2 separate regions of the Homo sapiens genome follow, and region 2 is linked to region 1. The links come from fine-mapping of genetic effects on gene expression. A gene starts in region 1. The other region holds a variant in brackets. All regions are shown on one strand. Distances are from middle to middle. Region 1 holds the start of PARP10 (poly(ADP-ribose) polymerase family member 10). Region 2 has its middle 11 kb from the start of MIR661.

The links. PIP is the estimated chance that this variant, and not a neighbour inherited with it, causes the effect. A credible set is the group of variants that fine-mapping cannot tell apart.
Region 2: its variant is the best candidate, but not a certain one, in a credible set for the expression of PARP10 in whole blood (INTERVAL, PIP 0.54).

The regions. Positions count from the first base shown.
Region 1 is chr8:143,980,819-143,991,855 of GRCh38, forward strand. It overlaps PARP10 (poly(ADP-ribose) polymerase family member 10), which reads right to left and starts at 5,642. Exons shown (of 11, transcript NM_032789.5): 1 at 5,540-5,642; 2 at 5,237-5,415; 3 at 4,903-5,157; 4 at 4,594-4,830; 5 at 3,726-4,510; 6 at 3,392-3,613; 7 at 3,190-3,286; 8 at 2,349-2,993; 9 at 2,114-2,247. The coding sequence starts at 5,541. It overlaps GRINA (glutamate ionotropic receptor NMDA type subunit associated protein 1), which reads left to right and starts at 9,238. Exons shown (of 7, transcript NM_001009184.2): 1 at 9,238-9,381; 2 at 10,382-10,784; 3 at 10,874-10,986. The coding sequence starts at 10,406. RefSeq lists enhancers at 5,305-5,744, 5,415-6,318, 10,983-11,037 and silencers at 9,170-9,669, 9,690-9,829, 9,960-10,219, 10,143-10,437, 10,270-10,319.
Region 2 is chr8:143,950,338-143,961,374 of GRCh38, forward strand. It overlaps a transcript of PLEC not described here. Among named protein-coding and RNA genes, the nearest start is that of MIR661, 11 kb to the left of the region's middle. RefSeq lists enhancers at 1-309, 1,194-1,383, 6,996-7,899 and silencers at 524-663, 2,354-2,703, 2,774-2,823, 3,074-3,143, 3,384-3,683. The variant G/A (reference allele first, on the strand shown) is at 5,938.

The sequences.
Region 1 (11,037 bases):
TCTATGGCTCAGTGGTAAATGTTTTTTCATTATTATAGTATGTCTACCAACCTATGGCCCACGCATGGAGGCTTTGTGATAGTTACAGAAACCTTTACGACATAATAAAAATAATGTAACTGACCAAATTGAGATGGAAGATGAGGGAGGAGGCAAAAGAGAGAGAAGCGAGGCCCATTCTCCTCATCTTCCATGCGGGAAGGCAAGAAACAATCTCTAAAGCTGTCAAGTGAAAAAAAAAAATTCAAGCATACCATTTAAAGTCATCAAGGTGCTCACTAAATTCAAGCATACCATTTAAAGTCATCAAGGTGCTCACCGGAAGAACCAAGTACGTATAATTAACAAAACCACCAGGATATGAGGTCAGTGCGTCTGGGTGGTGGTGATCCTGGTGGCGGTGAGCGGTGACGGTGTGTTGGTGAAGCTGACGGTGACAGTGGTGATGCTAATGGTGGTGATGATGGTGGCCACGGTGGTGGTGGTAGTGGTGGTGGTGATGGTGGTGACGACAGTGAGTGGTGAAGGTGATGGTGATGATGGTGGTGACGACAGTGAGTGGTGAAGGTGATGGTGATGATGGTGGTGACGACAGTGAGTGGTGAAGGTGGTGGTGATGATGGTGGTGACGACAGTGAGTGGTGAAGGTGGTGGTGATGATGGTGGTGACGACAGTGAGTGGTGAAGGTGGTGGTGATGGTGGTGACGACAGTGAGTGGTGAAGGTGATGGTGATGATGGTGGTGACGACAGTGAGTGGTGAAGGTGGTGGTGATGATGGTGGTGACGACAGTGAGTGGTGAAGGTGATGGTGATGATGGTGGTGACGACAGTGAGTGGTGAAGGTGGTGGTGATGATGGTGGTGACGACAGTGAGTGGTGAAGGTGGTGGTGATGATGGTGGTGACGACAGTGAGTGGTGAAGGTGATGGTGATGATGGTGGTGACGACAGTGAGTGGTGAAGGTGGTGGTGATGATGGTGGTGACGACAGTGAGTGGTGAAGGTGGTGGTGATGATGGTGGTGACGACAGTGAGTGGTGAAGGTGGTGGTGATGATGGTGGTGACGACAGTGAGTGGTGAAGGTGGTGGTGATGATGGTGATGGTGATGGTGGTGGTGATGACAGTGAGTGGTGAGGGTCATGGTGATGGTGTGATGGTGGTGGTGATGGTGATGGGGTGATGGTGATGATGGTGGTGATGATGGTGGTGAGGGTCATGGTGATGGTGTGATGGTGGTGATGATGGTGGTGAGGTCTGGGGACAGCCAGAGGTTCTTTTTGCATTTCTGACCAGCTCCTGGTGGAGGGTGATGCTGCTGGCCCCACGCACAACTTTGGGCATCAAGAGTTGAGAGTGCCCCGTGCAAGGCCGGGCGCGGTGGCTCACGCCTGTAATCCCAGCACTTTGGGAGGCCGAGGCGGGCGGATCACGAGGTCAGTAGATCGAGACCATCCTGGCTAACATGGTGAAACCCCGTCTCCACTAAAAATATTTTTTAAAAAATTAGCCGGGCGTGGTGGCAGGCGCCTGTAGTCCCAGCTACTTGGGAGGCTGAGGCAGGAGAATGGCGTGAACCCGGGAGGCGGAGCTTGCCGTGAGCCGAGATCGTGCCACTGCACTCCAGCCCAGGAGACACAGCGAGATGCCGTCTCAAAAAAGAGAGTGCCCCGCGCAGTGTCATCAGCACAGTGACCGCAGCGAGCCCGGGCCTTTCTGTGGAGGCAGAAGAGCGCCCAGAACAGCACAAGGGACGCATCTGTGGAGCGAGTAATCCTCAAAATGACCACAAGATGGCATCACCGCCCCATGCTCCAAATAAGGAAACTGAGGCCTGGAGCTGGTCCCATAGTCCCTGCTGACCCAGCCACGAGTGGCAGAGTGGGGACCCTCACTCAGGCCTATCAGATCCCAAGGCCCCCACTCTGTTCCCTCCTGTTTCCCTACCCACTTTGGGAACGCCCTCTGGGCAGAGAACAGGGCTGGGAGCCTGTCAGCTCCTGGTCAGCTGACCTTGATGTAGGCGAGAGGGACAGGCCACAGACTTGGCAAGGCGCTAATGGTGCAAGAGCCCAGGACGCCATGAGGCCAGAGAGACAGGGCATGGACTCACACGAACGACGCGGATGCTGCTGCGGGCAGCGTCCAGGGTGTCGTAGAAGGCCCGCACCACCTCCTGGAACTCCCCGGTGTTCTCTGCCAGACGCTCCAGGTTGTTCCAGGGCCCCTTCAGCGTCTGCCCCGCCACTGATGCATGGGGAAAAGCGGGGGGTCAGAGCCATGCCTGGGGCACTAGCCCCTGCTAACCAGCCCACCCCACCGTCCCTCAGTCCAGGAGGTAGACTCACAGGTAGGGCCTGAAGCTGCCAAGGGAAAGGCCAAACTCTGATCCCAGGGGCCAGCCAGAAGTGCCACCAAGTGGCGGGCAGCACGGGCAGGGTGGGCCCCGAAGCCACGGAGGATGGTGCAGTCACCACGCAGGGCAACACTCACACCATGGCACCGCTCCAGGCGAGCACGCAGCTCTGCAGGCAGTGTGCGGCGCCAGGGCCCCACCGTCTCCTCCTGGACGTGGACCTCCAAGGCAGCCCTGAGCGCCCGGTCCAGCTCCTCCACATCCTGCTCAAAGGCCGAGTGCACCACCAGCTGGGCCTTGCCATCAGTCCCCCCATCTGGGGGCTCTTCTGCCTCCAACGGGGGCTGCTCCAGCAGGGAGAGGGTTAGGGCTTGCCGCAGGGCAGCAGCCTCCTCCTGCTCAGCCACCTGACCTTGAGGCTCCAGTGACCGGTGGAGGGCCAGCTGCAGAGCGGCCTCCTCCTCCAGCCACCTGGGTGCCACAGTGCTGGGGGCCACAGGCTCCTCCTCCTCATGCCCTGGGGTCACCTCCTCCTCTGGCTGCTCCTGAGGCCCTTCCTCCTCCAGCTCCCGAGGCAGCCAGTCCTCCCCGTCTAGGTCTAGGCCCTCCAGGGTGGCCAGCAGTTCTCGGACCTCCTCTGGGGGCAGGGAGAGGCCATTGGGTCAGGGGCTGGACCCAGGAGGAGTTGGAATGGATGAAAGATGGGGAGCAAGTTTTTAGGGTACAGGGTGGGCCTAAGATGGGTCAGTAGACAGATGGGAGCACAGAGCAGGGCAGGGGGTGAGGTCAAGTGAGGGCCACAGGATGTGCTGAGGGCTCCCAGGGAGCCCTACCCAGGCTCACGTCCTCCTGGTCACCACCTGTACTGTCTGGGGTCCACAGGGTGTGGGCGTTGCCAGGGAGCACTGGGAGGGCCTCGGTAGGGTCCACCTGTAGGGAGAGGATGTCAGGACCACTAGCCTCTGGGCAAGGGCAGAGGAGGCCTGGGGCAGAGGCGTGAGAAAGGGGAGGGCAGGGGTGGGACTCCATCTCTACCTCTTCAAGGCCTGTGTCCAACGTGGCTGTGGCCAGGCGCTCTGTCCCAAAGACACACTGGAACTGAGCCTCCAGCCCCTGGAGAAGGTGCTGCCCTTCTGGGCCCAGGAGAAACCTGGCGCTGCCCGGGTGCTCCAGGCACAACACATGGCAGCTAATGCTGCCCAGCAGGCTCCGCAGAAACTCCTCAGCCGCCTGGCAGGAAGCCTGGGCTCCACAGAGCTGCAGGGCCATTGCAGAGATGGAGTTTGCAGGTTTAGAGCACAGGAAAGGTACTTTGAGTCCCCAGTAGGAGGAGGGGGCTGAAGGTGAGGAGTCCTGAGGGGTCACTCACCCGAAAGCCAGTCATATCCGGTCCTTCAAGTGGCAAGAGAGCGACGTCTCCCAGGCCCGCAAGAAGGTCCTCATGGTAGAGCTGCAGGAAGCGCATCGCCCCTGGCTCCATCAATAGCACCATCTCCACCAGGCCCTCCTGCCCTGCCAGCTTCACACATCCTGGGCTCACAGGCCCTGCCTTCTCCAGAGACCCCATGGTGATCTCCATGGGACCCACCAGCCCCTCTTGCTCTGGTGAGTCCATGGCAATTTCCACCAGGCCCTCCTGCCCCAGCAACCCCTTAGAGGTCTCCACTGGGCCTGCAGACCCCACAGGCCCCAGGCTCATGGGCCCCTCCTGTTCCTGCAACCCCACAGGCCTCAGGCTTACCAGCCCCTCATGTTCCAGAGACCCCATGGGCATCGAGCTGACTTGCTCTGCCTGTCCCAGAGACCCCATGGGACCTGTCCTCAGAGAGGTCCCTGACTGCCCTGGTTCCTGGCCAGAGCCTGTTGTCATAATCCCTCTACCCTGCACCATGGGACCTGTCCTCAGAGAGGCCCCTGACTGCCCTGGTTCCTCGCCAGAGCCCATTGTCACAGTCCCTGCACCCTGCAGAGCCGTCACCAACCCTCCGGTCCTCAGGAGAGCATGCTTGGTAGCCCTAGGCCCCTGGGTGGACGGGTGGTCCCCTCCACTGGTGTTCTCAGCCAGCTCCTCGGGCTCCAGGATGTCGTAGTGGGGGACAAGGCTCAGCTCTGAGCCCTGCAACCGGTGCTCCTGCTGCAACACTCGTTCTGCCACTTGGAGGAAGGGAAAGGACAGAAAGCCTGTCAGATTTCTGCAGGAGAGGGACGGTCGGCTGGGTCTGCCCAGCCCCACTCACCTTGCCACTGCTGGAAGGAGGCAACAGTGCCCAGGGGCCCGGGTAGGCGTTGCAGGTCCTCCAGGGGCCCCCCACCACTGCGGCGCTCATTCTCCAGGTACAACTCCAGCAACAGCAGGTCCACAGAGGCACCATCCCCCACCACACGCACCGCTCGGGCCTGGGGAACCCGGGCCAGGGACACCAAGGTCCCCTCCAGGCCCAGATTCTGGGCCTGCTCCTCCAGGACACGGACATCTGTGGGGTATGTGCAGGTCAGCTCAGGGAATCCCCCCTAGCCAGCACCTCAACCCCAACCCTGCCTCTCACCTGCCTCAGAAAGGGGCTTGGGCAACTGGACCAGAGCCCGGTCTGGCCGGGGGCTGGCCAAGGCACAGCAAGGCTGTACTGGGAGCCCCGAGGCCCGCAGCAAGGCCTGGACATGCTGCTCCAAGCGCTGGGGCGTGGTGCCAGGGGGCAGTCCTTGGAGCAGCAGGCGTGCAGGGGCTCGTGGTGGAGCTGGCCGCAGGCTCAGCTGGGCACCATGTAGTTCGTGATCTGCCTGGGCCAAGACCCTCTCGGCGTCTGTGGGCAGGGGCGGGGCAGGATGTCAGGCATTAGAATATCAGGGCACCCAGGCTGTCCCTTCAGCCAGCCCTCTCACCTGCAGGCTCTCTGAAGGTGAGGACGCCCCCACAGCCCAGTCTCTGCCAGCTCAACACAGGTCCCCCTCCAGAGCGTCGGCGGTTTTCAAAGTAGAGAGTGAGCAGCTCGTCGGGCACGGCAGGGGGCAGTCCACGGACCTCCACTGCCACCCCTGCCTCTGCCTCCGCCATTGCAACCCTGGGACGGGGCATCAGGTGGGTAGGGAAACAGCCCATTCCACCCCTCCTGCCCCTCCCCAGGCCCCTCCAAGGTGTGTCCTCAATGCTCCCCCATTATGGGTGGCCCCACATACAGCACTTACATTCCCCGTGGCCGCTAGGCAGCCTCAGGCCATGAGCTCAGCCAGGACTCCTGTGCCTGCCCCTCAGCAAGCCTAACCCTGCTGGGAGCAGGAAAACAAAAGTGAAACTGAAAGACGGAAGGAGGGAGGGAGCAGCTGGGCCCTGGGCGCTGAGGCCTGGGTACTGGGGCTCAGATGCTTCCTCTCCTGCTGCAGCCTCAACCCCCAGCTGACCAGGAGGTATTGGCCAGGCTGGACCCCTCAGGACCCTCCAGCCAACCCAGCCCAGCCCACCGGCCCTACCTGGCCCACTCCAGCCCCTGGTTGGCAGGGTAGACAGGAGTGTCCCCTGGTGGCCCTCCACTCCCCTGGCCTCCATGGCCTGAAAATGGCCAATCACCCGCCCCACTAAACCCACCAAGGGGCCTGAGTCACTGCCCCTCACTCAGGATCTCCAAGCCTCTGTGTCCATGACACCCTCTGCACACAAAGTGCTGGGTCTCCAGGCCCGCCCCCGGCCAAGGCTGGCCTTCAACGCCCCCAGCAACCTTCTCAACCCTGCTCCTGGTCCCTCACACCTGCCAGGTGCTGAGCATGGGCGGTTCCCCACCCTTGGTCTCCAAGAATGTGCATTGCAGCACAGCCTTCCTCCCGCCTCAGGTCTTGCCTGCCCATTCCTGCAGCTTTCTGTCCTGCCTGCACCTCCCCATCTCACACCATCATTGGCATCGTCACAAGTAACCTCAGAAGGTGACAAGGTAATGGCTCCACTGCATTCCTTGCTGCCGCTAATCCTCACCACAGAAAGGGAAACGGAGGTGCAGACAGGCCCATAGCAGCACCAGGCCTCAAACCTGGGCGGTGCCTTCAGAGTCCACACTCCCACTCGCCACAGATCTCCCACATCACCCAAGCTCCGTTTGCTTCCAGCCTTTCAAAGAGCTGTGGCCACTACCACTCTCCATCTCCTACTTCCCACTCACCCCTCAGCCCACCAAAACCCAGCCCCACCCCTGCTGTTCCTCCCTCCAGGGAGCTGAGGACCCTGGCCAGCCTGCACTCCTAGCCCTGCACATGCCACACCTCTGCTGCCCCGACCCTGGTCCCAGCCTCCAGCATCTCTCGCTAGGTAGCTAGGCTAACCTCTTAACTAGTCTCTGTCTGCCACTCCCATGGTGGGTCCTCAACAGAGGTGTCAGGGTGAGCCTTGTAAAATGACACCAGCAGCTGCTACAGCTCCCAGCATCAGCAACAGTAGAAACCAAAGTCCTGGGGGCCGGGCGCAGTGGCTCATGCCTGTAATCCCAGCACTTTGGGAGACTGAGGCAGGTGGATCACGAGGTCAGGAGTTTGAGATCAGCCTGGCCAACATGGTAAAACCCTGTCTCTACTAAAAATATAAAAATTAGCCGGGCATGGTGGCAGGTGCCTATAATCTCAGCTACTCAGGAGGCTGAGTCAGGAGAATAGCTTGAACCTGGGAGGTGGAGGTTGCAGTGAGCTGAGATCGTGCCACTGCACTCCAACCAAGGTGATAGAGTGAGACTCTGTCTAAAAAAAAAACAAAAACCCAAAGTCCTTTTGAGGACCTGCCCCCTGCCCAGCTGCACCTGACCAGACCTCAGTCCCTTCTCTGGCCCCATGCCCCCTGCACACCCTGATGCTCAGAGGGCTCCAGGCTCTCAGCTCTTCCTGCAGAGCTACAGGCCACTCCTGCCTCAGTAGCCTGGGACTGGCCCTTCCCTCTGCTTGGCCCTACCTTCCCCACAAACCCCCATGGCCACCCCTCTGGCATGATCTCCCTTACTCTGCCTTTTTTTTTTTTTTTTCTGAGACGGAGTTTCGCCCTTTCACCCAGGCTGGAGTGAAGTGCCGTGATCTCGGCTCACTGCAACGTCCACCCACTGGGTTCAAGGGATTCTCCTGCCTAAGCCTCCCAAGTAGCTGGGATTACAGGCACGCACCACCATGCCCAGCTAATTTTTGTATTTTTAGCAGAGACAGGGTTTCACCCTATTGGGCAGACTGGTCTCAAACTCCTGACCTCAGATGATCCACCTGCCTCAGCCTCCCAAAGTGCTGGGATTACTGGTGCCAGCCACCATACCCAGCTATTTTATTTTTATTTACTTATTTATTTATTTTTTGAGACAGAGTCACACTCTGTTACGCAGGCTGGAGTGCGGTGGCACGATCTCAGCTCACTGTAACCTCTGCCTCCCAGGTTCAAGCCATTCTCCTGCCTCAGCCCCCCCAATAGCTGGGATTACAGGTGCACACCACCACGCCCAGCTAATTTTTTTTTGTATTTTTAGTAGAGACGGGGTTTCACCGTGTTAGCCAGGATGGTCTCCATCTCCTGACCTTGTGATCCACCCGCCTCGGCCTCCCAAAGTGCTGGGATTACAGGCGTAAGCCACCGCGCCCAGCAAGCATTTTATTTTTCTTAAAGGTCTCTCAAATTTTGTGAGCTTCTGCTTCTACAAAGGTAGAAGTTACCTTCTACAAGGGTAAATCCATCCCTGCTTTTTCCACGTTTTCTCTAATGGAACTCATCACAGGTTATCCATTACGCCGACCCTGGCTGCAGAGGGCCTGCCACAGGCACCACTCACACCACAAGCAGACTGGTACAGTTTCGGGAATTTCTGTGGACTGGTTGTCCAGCTGGGGGTAACTTGAAACCAGCCCCGGTGGAGTATTCACACCACGCGCATGTGCAAAACACGCACCCCAGGCTTCCCCTCACTAGGTCCGGCTGCTAAACACTGCGCCAGCGCACCATAGGTGCAGGACTCAGAGCGGCCTGGGAGAGGCCGGCCCTCCAAGGGCGGGAGGGCAGGTGGGGTCTGGGCCCCGGGTGGGAAGGCTGGCAGCAGGATGTACCCTGCCTGTGTCAGTCACTGCTCCCCCAAGAGGACTTGGGAGCTAAGCAGGGAGGTGGCCTGGCCTCCAGTCCTGCTGCATCCCCAAGCCTCAGCCCCTCGCAGCTTGTGAGGACGTTAGGCAGACAAGCGAGCGTTCAGGGTCTCTAGTGTGAAAACAAGACATCGTATTTGTTAGTACAAAGGGTGACTGTGGTCAAGAATAATTGTACATTTTAAAACAACTCCAAGAGTATAACTGGATTGTTTGTAACACGAAGGACAAAATGCCTGAGCTGATGGATACCCCATTTACCTTGATGTGATTATTATCCATGGCATGCCTGTATCAAAACATCCCATGTAGCCCGTAAATATACACCTACTATGTATCCACAAGAATTAAAAAAATAAAAAAGGGTCTCTAGTAGCAGGCCTGGCAGAGTTTGGGCTGACAGAGCAAATGGGGCAATTAAACCACGAGGCCTCGATTTGGGAACTAAAGGATTAGGCTTCTTGATTTGGGAGAGATCTGGATGAAAAGAAGTGAACGTCGGGTTTTAAGGCCGAGAACGGACGGTCAGTCCCGGGCAGCTTCAGCAAATCCCGCATTTAGGAATAAATTTCTTAACTACCGAACGGCCAGTCAAATTGGCCAGACCAGACTTCTGCCTCCAGGGGTCTTCAGCGCCCACCGCCCGACCCCACCCCTCGGCAGACAGTGAGAGGCGGGCCTCTGGCCGGAGCGAAGAGGAACACGCAAGGCGGCGCAGCGGGAGGGGTCCGCGGAAGCCCCGCCCACCTGCCCCTCCCACCCCGAAGCTCGCCCGGCCCCGCCCCCTGCCCCGCCCCGTCACAAGGCCCCGCTGCGTCTTCCGAGCCGCAGGCGCAGGCCCAGCTGAGCGGCCGCCGAGCGGGTGCGGGTGCGGGCGCATCGGCCATCACCGCGCGGCCGCGCAGCGGACACCGTGCGTACCGGCCTGCGGCGCCCGGCCACCGGTGAGTCCCCGGCCCGAGCCCAGGAGCGCCTCTGACCCGCTGCGCCGCGCGGCCTGCCGCCCCCGCCCCCGCCCCCACGCGGATCTTGCGCATCCGAGCGTGGCCGCCTCGGGTCAGTAAGTTGGTCCGGCCGGGGCGCGCGGCAGCTCGCGGCCAGAGGTGGCGGCGGTGGTGGGGGCGGGGAGCCGCGGCGGCCTGGAGCCGGAGGGAGGGGGCGGCGCGCTGCGGCGACTGCTGGACCCGTGACCCTGTGCGCCCCCGGCCCGCGGAGGGCCCATCCGCTCTCGGTGCCAGTGCCACGGCCGCAGCCCCTACCCGCCTCGCCCCACGCCCGCTTTGTTCCCCGCACGCCCCGTGGTCGCTTCCATCCCCCACACACCCCCGCACCCCGCTGTTCCCGGCGTACCCCACTGGCAGGCACCGGCAGCCGATCCAGGCCCGATCCCCCCACCCCGGAGCCAGGGGCCGTTGGGCCCTGTTGTTGGGCTCGCGGGGGTGGGGGGGCTCGGGCCTTTGTTGGTCACAGATGGCCCGGGGATTTCCTGGGATAGAAATAGCCGCCGGCTCCGGCCCCTTAAAGCTGCTTAAGGGGCGGGATGCGGAGGGGAGGGTCCGGGCACACCCCACACGTCCCCGGCCGAGACCCCAGCCTCCGCGCTGAGCTCCCACCCGGGAGACGCCGGCAGCGGCGCAGGCCTCCGGTTGCTTGTGAGAAACGACCCAAGCCCCAAATCCCGAGGCTGGCGGTCGTCCCCTCGCCCGGCCCCTCCCCCACCCTAAAGGCGGCCTAGAGCCCTGGGAAGGCCCCACGGCGCCGCCCGTCCGGTCCTCACGCGCTTCTCCGGGCCCAGGCTCCGGGGCTCCCCACAGCCCGGGGCAAAGGTCACGGTCTTCCCTTGCTTCCCCCTGGGTTCCCAGAAGCAGGTGGAGTTGCGCAGGGCTGGGTCCCGACGCTGTCGTCAAGCCAACTGTTCCACTGTTCCTTGTCTGTCTTCTCTAGGGGCGGACCGCGGAACCCGAGGCCATGTCCCATGAAAAGAGTTTTTTGGTGTCTGGGGACAACTATCCTCCCCCCAACCCTGGATATCCGGGGGGGCCCCAGCCACCCATGCCCCCCTATGCTCAGCCTCCCTACCCTGGGGCCCCTTACCCACAGCCCCCTTTCCAGCCCTCCCCCTACGGTCAGCCAGGGTACCCCCATGGCCCCAGCCCCTACCCCCAAGGGGGCTACCCACAGGGTCCCTACCCCCAAGGGGGCTACCCACAGGGCCCCTACCCACAAGAGGGCTACCCACAGGGCCCCTACCCCCAAGGGGGCTACCCCCAGGGGCCATATCCCCAGAGCCCCTTCCCCCCCAACCCCTATGGACAGCCACAGGTCTTCCCAGGACAAGACCCTGACTGTGAGTCTCAGGAAGGGAGGGGTGGGGTGGCCGGGAGGGCAGGGGGAGGTGCTTGTGAGTGGCGCTGACCCAGCCTGTCTGCTTCTCAGCACCCCAGCATGGAAACTACCAGGAGGAGGGTCCCCCATCCTACTATGACAACCAGGACTTCCCTGCCACCAACTGGGATGACAAGAGCATCCGACAGGCCTTCATCCGCAAGGTGGGTAGGGGCATCTCCAAGGCGGTGGGGGCTGTGGCTCCCAGCGGATGA
Region 2 (11,037 bases), 30 kb before region 1:
CAGGGGACCCTGCACAGCCTGCACGTGGGGGGTGCGGCGTGCGGGCATCACCATGGCGACGGGGCGGCGCACGCGCTGCAGAGAGGCGGGCACGATCTCTGGCGGCAGGTGCAGGTACTGGCGGAGGTGGGCGATGCCTTCATTGGTGAGGTACCAGTAAAAGTGGCACCAGGCAAAGGTCTCGCGGACCAGGCCCCGTGCCCGCAGGGACGCCATGGCACGCATGACCTGCAGGTTGGTGACGCCGGGCACATGGGGGTGCAAGCTGCGGGGCCGCCGGTCCTTCTTGGCCACCATCACGCCCTCGCGGAAGAGCACCTCATAGATGGCCCGCAGCTGGTCCCGTGGCATGAGCATGCCGGCCACCATGGCTGCTGGAGCCGGGCAGTCAGTGCGGGGGCAAAGGCAGCAGGCAGGGTACCACGAGAAGGCCCGGGGCGCTGCGAGAAGCTCCCGCGCTACAGGGTGTGACAGCGGGCAGCGGCAGGGCAGGCGGGCGGGCAGGCAGGCTGGGGTGCTGAGCGTGAGGGCGCGGGCTCCCGGCTGTGTGGCTCGTGGCGCCTGGCTCCGTGCAATCCCTGCCGGCACTGCCGGCTGCCCGCCTTCCTCCAGGACGCCGGGCCGGCCCCCTCTGACTCAGCAGCATGGGCGGCCCCTCCCACCCACAGCCGACGGGGCCCTTGTAGAGTGGGGGGCACCTCAAGAGGCAGCGGCCACCCCCACAGCTGCCCCTTTCCCCCCACCAGGCCCCACGGCTCCAACGTCAGAAATGACATCAGTTTCTAAACACATCCTTCAAGGTCCCTAAGACTGTGCTGGGGCAAGTGGGGGCGGATATAGACCAAGAGTCTAAAGAAGAGGGTGGCAGGGCAGGCAGGGGGGCTGAGGGCAGGAGGGGTACTCGGCAGGGATGTGGGCTCTGGTGTCCCGGCTTCACAAGGATCTGAAGGGGGGTGCTGGGCTGCCAGGCCTGGAGGGATGAGGGATGCGAGGCTTGAGCGGAGAGGACTAGGGCCTGGGGAAGAAGCTGGGGTCTTGCGGGAGGAAGTCCGAGGGGAGCGGCTGGGGGCAGCTGCCACAGCACATGAGGAGGGCTGCAGGCACCGCTGCTGCTGTCCATCAGGCGGGCAAACGGACAGAGCCCCCACCTCCACACACCAGGCTTAGAGGCAGTGGCCACTCAAGTTAACACTTCCCATTCCAGGCCAGATTAGGAGTGGCCTCTCCAAGCCCACAGCCCTCTGAGCAGAGCACCGGCTAGGGGGCTCAGAGGGGCCTCAATTCACCCCCACCTCCAACCCAGCTGTTGGAGGCCAGAGATTCCCAGCCGCTGCCACAGAGAAAGTCACCGAGTCCCTACCGCCCACAGATGCCCACCCTGGGCAGCCCAAGTGCCCGTCTGCAGGCCAGATGGATGGCTGCAGGGTGGAAGAATGCCAGGCCAGAAGACGGCCAGGGCCCAAGGGAAGGGAAGAGGAAACTGCCCTGTGAGGCCCTGCAGGCCTGGCCCAGCCACACCCATCATCCACCCCCCCCTCCCCGCCCCGCTGCTGCCGCCCCCACTGAGGGTCCAGGCATGAGAACCGCACCCAACACTCCCACTGTCCCACGCTGTGCTCCATGGACCCCCACCCGTATCGCTGCTCGCCCCAAGCCGACACACCCCTTCCCACCAAGCCCGGCAAACCCGGGAACTGATTATAAATAGGGCGGTGGGGGGGAGTGGGAGAGAGGGGGGATCCCGAGGTGGGAGGCGCTGGCCAGCAGCCGGCAGGCGGCCAACAAGCAGCTTGTGGGGGCGGGTTTATGGGGCCGTCGCCATGGCGCCACGGTGCAGGCTCCAAACACACACACACACACACACACACACACGCGCGCACACACGCACGCGCACGCGCACGCCTGCGTACACAGAGGTGTGGTGGCGGGGAAACTCCGAAGGCATAGCCACGGTTCCCACAGCCCTCTGGCAGGGCCAGCTCGCTGCGGCATGGCTCTCCCTCCCTCTGAAGCCAGCCCCAGGCAGGAAAAGGCCAGCCTCAGGAGGTGAGGCTCCAGGAAGATGTAGGGACCACAGTGGCCACGCCCCTCGGACCACCAGCACCTGCGGACCCTCCACCCACCAGGGTTGTGGCTTTGGGAACAACACCAGCTGGGTCCAAGCCTGCCCAGCCCTGTGCCCAAAGAAGGCCCTACCCTCTTGGCCAGTCCCTCAGCGCACCCCCCCACACTGACCTCCTGCACTCCCGGCAGGCCGACCGCATCTTCCTGGCCTGATTCCCTAACCTAATCCCCCCCAGATCTCCAAGGGCCCCACCAAACTAACCCACGATACCCACACTGTCCCAAAATGATCCCAAGGCCTCTTAAAAGCACGTGGACCTAGGTTCTCTCCTACACAGGCCTGCAGGGGTGCCAGGACTGACCCCCGCTGGGCCGCCACCCAACCAGCCCCGCCTCCCCCAAGCCGGCTCCGGGCAGGAAAGGGCGGTAGCTTCCTCCAGCAGAGATGGGGCGGGGCTCGGCGGGAGTCCCCTCCCTCCCACCAGCCAGGGGCCTGCAGGCGGGAAGGGAAGCCGCAGGGAGGAGCCCGGAGCAGAATGTTCCTGGCCCACCCTGCCAGCTCCGCACACGCCCCCCTGCGGCATGCGCCACCCCCCCCCGCCTCGCAGCACACACCTCCTGCAGCACACACCCCCCCCGAAGCACACACACCCCTGCGCCAGGGTCCAGGCGTCCCCCAAGACCCCCGGGCGGAAGCTACCGCCCCCTGCCCCCACCCTGTGGGAACCGAAGCGGGAGCTGATTCAGCACTGGGAGGGCCAGGGTGTGCGACTGGGCGGCCCCTTCTCCCCCCACTCCAGACCCCTTTGGGTTTCCAGAGCAACCAGTCAGGGCTCCTGGGCAGCCCCCAGCCCCCCCACCCCACCCCAAGACAAAGAGCCGCAGTGTGGACTTGCTCAGGGCCAGCCGGCCCGGCGCCTCTGCACAGTGGTCCCCCAGCCCTGCCCTGCCCCTTGGACGCCAGGTTGTGGGCGGCAAACTCGGGCCGGGTGGAAGGGGCTGACCCTGCTGTGAAGGCTGAGCTCCCACTGTGTCCCTGTCCCCGCCCCGCCGCCGCCGCCGCCGCCGCCGCCGCTGCAGCAGCCACCCCGCCCCCGACGCTCCTGCAGGGCTGCGGAGCCGCTGAAGCCAGCCCAGTAGGACCCCGAACCAGGTGGAGCCCGGAGGGGGACGAGTCTGGGGTCTCCTGCGGCTCTGGCTCAGCGACCCACAGTGTCACCCCAGGGATGGCAGACCCTGCCCGCCACCCTGCGTGGACTGCACCCAGCCAGAGGTCACTGTGTGGTCCGCGCCCCCCGGCTCGGGCCCGGCCCCAGGACCGCACCTTTGAGGGAGCTGATCTCGTTCTGGATGGCTCGCGAGGGGTCCATGTCTGCGCCGGGGCTGAGGGCGGCTGTGCCACCACCAGGCAGAGTCCAGCCCCGCACCGCACTGCCCAGGCCAGCGCCGCAGCCGGGGGAGGAGCCCGGAGGTCCGGGGCAGGGCTTGCCGGCCAGGGGCGGGGCTTCAGCTGATCAATGCGCCGGACAGGGCCGCCCCGGGCGCATGCTCCCGGCCGCACCGCGCACCCCTCCCCCCCAGCCTGTGGTTCTGGGGCACGCGACCCCGCTAACCCCAGCCAGACTGCCAGGTCACCAGGCCGGATCCAGGAGCGCTCGGACGGCCCACTCCCCAGCTCCGCAGCCCCCGGCCCACCCCACAGCCCCCCGAGTCCACTGCAACGAGCCATGCTTAGAACAGCCTGTGGGACACACGTGCGAGGGCCTTGAAGCCGTTACCCGCGCCCTGCAGGAGATACCCACCCATCCAGATCTCCCAGTAACTTCCTCAGCCGGCCCAACTCCAGGGCCTGGGCTGGCAGGCTGCTGAGATCAAGCCCCCAGACCCTGGTCGGCCACCTCCCACCTCCCCGGCCCCAGCAGTGTGCCCCTTCCCCGGGCGTCTCGCCTCTGCGCAGCCCTGGGTCAGGCACCTTGTACACTGGCTCCAAAGATGACAGGTCCGACCTGCACCCTGGTCTCTGCCTCTCCCACCCAGCCTCAGGATGCCCCACAGGCAGCCCCACAGGTCCTCCTGGCTGCGCCCCCCAGTCTGCCCACTCGCCAGCATCTCCACTGCCGCCAGATGACACTGCAGCTCCATCCCTCACCCACCCCCCACGACCACCAGGGACCCTTCGCAGCTGCTCTGATCCAACCACCCCTATGGCTAATGGGGTCAGCCTCCTCAGCCCGCAGGAGTAGCTGTGTGTCACTGCGCACGCCTGGGGGAGCAGGTAGCACTGGCAGGGTGAGGTCAGCTCTGCCTCACTCACTGCGCTGCAGGGGGCACGGAGGAATGCTGGGCCCTGCCCACACCAGGGCACCCCTTCAACACTGGCCCCGGGACTGTGCTCCACCCCAGTCCGTGCTGGTAGTGTGGGGCAGGACAGCCTCCACAAGATAGAAGTGACTAGCCTGCCTCAGTCTCCAGCAAGGCCTTTCCTCTGCCTTCACCCGCAAGTCCTTCCCCTCCTGTAAACAGACCCACTGTGCGCCAGGCTGGGGCTGGCATGGAGGACGTGACCATGATCCAGGAGCGAGGCCGGCAGCTCCCACGGGTACGAGCTAACAGGCAAAGGGCCAGAAGCCAGCCCCACCTCCACCGTAGACCCAGCAGTTCTGGAGTCTCTCGTCCCCCTGCCCGTCCCTGCCCTCCCTGGGACTCAGCCAGTTGGGGTGTGGGGAGTCTCAAGAAACACCAGTTGCCAAACTTAAGGAAAATGGTGAAGTGAGGAATTAAAACAGAATTTCAGGCCGGGCACGGGGACTCATACCTGGAATCCCAGCACTTTGGGAGGCCGAGGCAGGTGGACCACTTGAGGTCAGGAGTTTGAGACCAGCCTGGCCAACATGGCAAAACCCCATCTCCACTAAAAATACACAAAAAAATCAGCCAGGCATGGTGTCACACGCCTGTAGCCCCAGCTACTCAGGAGGCTGAGGCACGAGAATCACTGGAATCCAGGAGGCTGAGGTTGCAGTGAGCCGAGATCGCGCCACTGCTGAATTCCCAGCTAGGTTTTACTGAGCTGTATCTGGATAAACCTAAATTTGGCCTGCAAGTGAATCATACTTCCTTAGTAAACCTCAAGTGAAAGTGACAGATATTTATAAAGAGATCTAAAAAGTTCATACATTTTTAAAAAATGCTGTTTTTTTTTTGTTTTGTTTTTTTGAGACAAGGTCTCACTCTGTCACCCAGGCTAGAGTGCAGTGGCTCAATCACGGCTCACAGCAGCCTCGACCTCCTGGGCTCAAGCGATGCCCCCACCTCAGCTTTCTGAGTAGTTGGGACTACAGGCGTGCACCACCACTCCCAGTTCATCTTTTAATTTTTTATACAGACAGTCTGTCTCTGTGTTGCCCAGGCTGGTCTCAAACTCCTGGGCTCAAGCAATCCTCCCACCTCCCAGTGCTGGAATTACAAGTGTGAGCCACACTGCCTGGTCCAGATCAATTTTTTTAATTTAATGCATAAAAATTTTCCTCAGCCTAGGGAGACTTTTTTTTTTTTTTTTTTTTAACTGAGGCAGAATCTCGCTCTGTCACCCAGGCTGGAGTGCAATGGTGTGATCTTGGCTCACTGCAACCTCTGCCTCCTGGGTTCAAGCAATTCTCCTATCTCAGCCTCTGCAGCTGGGACTACGGATGTGTGCCACCGCACCGGGCTAATTTTTGTATTTTCAGTTGAGATGGGGTTTCACCATGTTGGTCAGGCTGATCTCGAACTCCTGACCTCAGGTGATCCACCCGTCTTGGGCTCCCAAAGTGCTAGGATTACAGGCATAAGCCACCACGCCCGGCCAGGGAGATTTTTTTAAAGGATTAAAAC[G/A]CATAAAATGGAATGTTATAAGATTGGCCAGGCGTGGTGGCTGAGCACTTTCCGAGGCTGAGACAGGAGGATCACTTGATCCTGGGAATTCAGGACCAGTCTGGGCAACAAAGCAAGACACCGTCTCTGCAAAAAACTAAAAAACTATCCTGACACGGTGGCCTGGGCCTGTGGTCCCAGCTCTTTGGGATGCTGAGGCAGAAGGACGGCTTGAACCAGCCCACCCAAGGCTGCAGTGAGCCGTGATTGCGCCACTGCATTCCTGTCTGGGAGAGAGCAAGACTGACTCGAAAACAAACAAAAAGATAGGATCATGGTTTCAAGCTAATGAGAAGGTGAGGGCACACAGCTGTTCAGAGAAGGAACACACAGCTTTTCATGCACCGACTCCGCCTTTAACTTCCCCCCTGAAGTCAAGCTGCCCGCCTGTGAGTGGCCACCATGGTCACCTGTGGTCTCCCGCAGCCAGAGGCTTATCGACAAGCTGCAGCAGCAGCAAGTTCCCATGAAGGAGCCTGAGACTGCCCAGCCCAGCCTGCCTGGAACGGTGGCCACATGGTGCAGCCTTGGAAGTGGGGGCGGCCACGATGACCCTGGGAAGGGCTCAGCCAGCTGCACGTCAGTCAGCTCTGTGGTTCCTTCCCGGCACAGGCTTCCCAAAGGAAGGGACAGCTATGTGGGGACGGGCCGCAGGCAGCCAGCACAGGAAGAGAGGCCACAGGCACCAAGGCCTTGCCGTAGAGGAAACAAGTCCAGGCAACCCCCAAGAAGGTGGAGGTGGCTGCAGCCGGGAGGGGGGCGCCTGGAGACGGGGCTACAGCCGGGGATTTCAACAGGACAGGCAGGTCCCAGGCTGGCAGCGAAGGGCCCACGAGCAAGAGATTTAGGCAGCGGGGAGGAAAGGGAGCTGGGGTAGAGGAAGCTGGGCGCCCTGGTGACGCAGCTCTGGAGCGTGGGAAGCAAAGCCCCGGCCACTGCCCAGGAGATCTCATCGCTCTGGCCCCAATTCATGGATCACAAAGGAGTCTTGCCGAAGAAGCACGCGGGTCTGTGTGTCCAGGCCAGTGAACTGCAGGGACCCCCAGGCTGCAGTCGGGCTCACCAGCACCAGTGCCTCCGGAAAACCCCTACCTCTAGCTTCTGCTTTGCTGGTCGAACCCAGCATGGCCCCCATGCCCAGCTGGGGTGCCATCAGGTCTCCTGGCCAGGTCTCACACCCTGGGCAAAGCCAAATCCTCATGAAGCTCTCTGCAAATTCCCCACACCACTGGGGACCCCAGAACCAAGGTTGAGCCCAGGCACCACAGATAAGCCCTCCCTCCTTCCCAACCCCTCTGTCTGGGCACAGAGCAACCTCCTCTTCACCAGTCCCCAGGCCCTGGCTGCCCTGGCCACAGGCCCAGGCCAAAGAAGGGGCTCCAACCCTGTCCCCCACACCACACCTGCGAATGGGATGGGCCCTCCCCTGAGGCCCTGCCCACCACCACCCTGCCTGCCCTCAGCTTTGCTCCCTGCCCCATCTTCACGCCCACCCACCCACCCAGCCCCTAACCCCCTGGCAGCCTGCCCTGCTGGGGCTCTCTGGTGGTGGTGGAGCAGGCCAGTGGGCTGTGACCCAGTGACCCCATGCAGAGGCGACCTGCGACAGGCAGACACCCTGCTGGCAGATACCTCCACCTGGGGCCCCCGACAATAGCCCCAGGGAGACCAGGCCCAGTGAAATCCTGCCAGATACATCCAGCACACACTCAGCCCTCCGGAGGCACAGACCCCTGCTCTGCTCCCCGCCTGAGCCTGCGGCAGGTCCACAGGAGCCACCTCACCTGCCCCAGGCTTCTGCCTCGCAGCCTTGGCCCAACAACAGCCCGGCCTCTGCGGATGCTGCGGGACAGGTGGGAGGAGAGCCTTCCATGCTCTGGAGGCCACCCCTGCGCAGGGTGGGGCTCAGTGCGAGCTCAGTCGGGCCAGCCAGCCTGCAGGATTTCTGGGGTGGAGGGCCACCACTGCGGGACTGGATGCCCACCAGGGCTGCTGGGAGTCCCAGTGAGGGCCCAGGAGGCACAGAGGTCATCTCTCCGAGCCACATCCTTCTCCTCTCTCCCCTGCAGCCCAGTACAAGAGTATCTCAATACCAGGTGTCTGCTAGAGACCAATTTGCGGGGAAGGTCCTGGGTCCCACCCACATGACCATCCATTAGGGGGCCCATCGTTCCCAAATATCTCTCAAACCTGTCCTGTGCCCACTGTCTCCACCACACCCTGGCCTGGCCACCACCCTTTCACCTCAAAGACAGTGGTAGCCTCCCTCGTTGCCCCTCACCTCCAAGCACTGGACAACAGCAGCCAGTGCTCTCCGAGCACAAGCAGGTCCCACCACAGCCCTGCCGCTGCCCTCTGGAGGCCCTCCTCACGCAGGCACCTGCTCTGCTGCAGCAGGGTGGACCTCGCCAGGCCTCTGTGGAGAGGCTTCTCACCTGATCCATGGTGGCTCCCCCTTCCCTCCCTCTCAGCCCTCCAACACCGAGACACCTGTGGGCCCCTGGGGCGGCTGCCTCACCCAGCACCAGACACGAAGGTGTCACCACAGGAAACATGGAGCAAGAGAAGAAATGAATTCCTGGAGTTCAGGGATAATGCACTTTCCCAGAACTCTGTTAATATCGTTGACTTCACTAGCAGATTAAAGGAGAAAACCGGTATATTGATCTAGAAAATCTCGACAGCTCATTTGATAAAAACCAGTATTTATAACAAGGAATGAGCTTACATCGTTAACATGCAAATAAATGACCCTTGTAGCACAGCGGGGCACCCTCCCAGTGTGAGGCGAGGCTGCTGAGGGGAGGGCGTGTGAGGGTGAATGCGGACGGTGCAGGCGCAGCTCTCGGTCCAGCGCCAGGACATGGGACAGCATTTACCCAAGTCAGCACTGCTCCTCTTGGCACCTGAAACAACTCAACTCACCATTTACTGGAGCTCAGAGAAAGTTCATTGAGAGGCTGGCTTCAAACGCAGTTAAAAGACCCGAGAGATTTCTTTAGGCCAGTAATAACAAGTTAGGAAAATACAGCAGGAAAAACTCTTCATCAGCACAAAACGTGCTGGAATAAGATAACTGACGATCGGTCAGAGCTGATGCAGGGAACGCCCCGGCTCCAGGATGGCTCCAGGACCAGGCTCGGGGTCCGGGATGCAGAGGCCCAGGTGGCAGATGCCGCGCTAACCTGACGCGGCCGCAGTTCTGCTCACCCTCCCGCTGGCTCTGCCAGGAGACTCCTTACACAAGTTCCCGTCAGACAGCGAGGCCATGTGACTTGTCTGAAGCTCCAACACCGGGTGCTGGGCAGGTGGGAGGAGTCGGCCCACTTGGGCACTGCTGGAGGGACGACGACTGCAGTACCTAGCCAGCAACTTAGAAATTGTTTAAAAATTGTGTCTGAAACCTGGTGTGGTGGCTCACGCCTGTAATCCCAGCACTGTGGGAGGCCAAGGCGGGCAGATCACGAGGTCAGGAGATTGAGACCATCCTGGCTAACACAGTGAAACCCCATCTCTACTAAAAATACAAAATATTAGCCGGGTGTGGTGGCGGGCGCCTGTAGTCCCAGCTACTCAGGAGGCTGAGGCAGGAGAAGTGGAGGTTGCATTGAGCTGAGATCATGCCACTACACTCCAGCTTGGGCGACAGAGTGAGACTCCGTCTCAAAAAAAATAAAAAAGAACTGGCCAGGCACGCGGTGGCTCACGCCTGTAATCCCAGCACTTTGGGAGGCCGAGGCAGGCAGATCACCTGAAGTTGGGAGTTCGAGACCAGCCTGACCAACATGGAGAAACCCTGTCTCTACTAAAAATACAAAATTAGCTGGGCATGGTGGTGCATGCCTGTAATCCCAGCTACTTGTGAGGCTGAAGCAGAAGAATCGCTTGAACTCGGAGGGCGGAGGTTGCAGTGAGCCGAGATCATGCCATTGTACTCCAGCCTGGGCAACAAGAGCGAAACTCCGTCTCAAATAATAATAATAATAATAATAAAATAAACAATAAAATAAAATAAAAACTTAGGCCAAGCCCAGTGGCTCATGCCTGTAATTCAGCACTTTGGGAGGTCAAGGCGGGCGGATCACCTGAGGTCAGAAGTTCGAGACCAGCCTGGCCAACAAGGTGAAACCCCGTCTCTACTAAAAATACAAAAATTAGCCGGGTGTGGTGGCGGGTGCCTGTAATCCCAGCTACTCAGGAGGCTGAGGCAGGAGAATCCCTCTAACCCGGGAGGCGGAGGTTGCAGTGAGCTGAGACTGCATCTCTGCACTCCAGCCTGGGTGATAAAGCAAGACTCTGTCTCAAGAAAAAAAAAAAGAACTTATAACAGTTTACATTCTTCCCTTCACTAAACTTTAAAAATCAAAATCGTGTTGGAATAGAAAATATTCACGTGACTCAAACACTGAGAGTAGACAGAGAAGTCTTGCTCCCCTCCCTTCTCCCTGTCTCCCCCCACCCACACACACAGTGTGAAAATCACTGTTAGTGGCTTCCTGTTTGTTTCTCCAGAATTTCTTTACAGAAAATCAAGCAAATACCATGTGATTCTTGGTTTTCTTCCTTTTAACACAAACGGTGAAATCTTCCGGGCACCATTCTGCCCCTGCTTTCCCACCCACCCCACAGCTGGAGGCCTCCCGCTCTGCACGGGGACCGTGACCCACGTCTGGCCATGCAGAGCGGCACGTGTGGGCCCAGCCTCTGAGCGCACTCAGGCCAGTGACCATCGTCTGCTCGGACACACACTGCGCGTTTGTGGCTCTGACAGACGCTTTCTCTGGCCTGGTTCCCACAGCTTCAGCAACAGAACCTAGAAATCCAGATTTTTGATTTTTGCCAATACGATAGGTAAAAAACAGTATCTTGATGTAAATTAAAGCTTAAATTTTGAAAACCACTTGACCCAGAAATTCCTTTTTTTTTTTTTGAGACAGAGTCTTGCCCTGTCGCCCAGGCTGGAGTGCAATGGCGCGATCTCAGCTCACTGCAACCTCCGCCTCCCAGGTTCAAGTGATTCTCCTGCCTCAGCCTCCTGCGTAGCGGGGATTACAGGCGTGC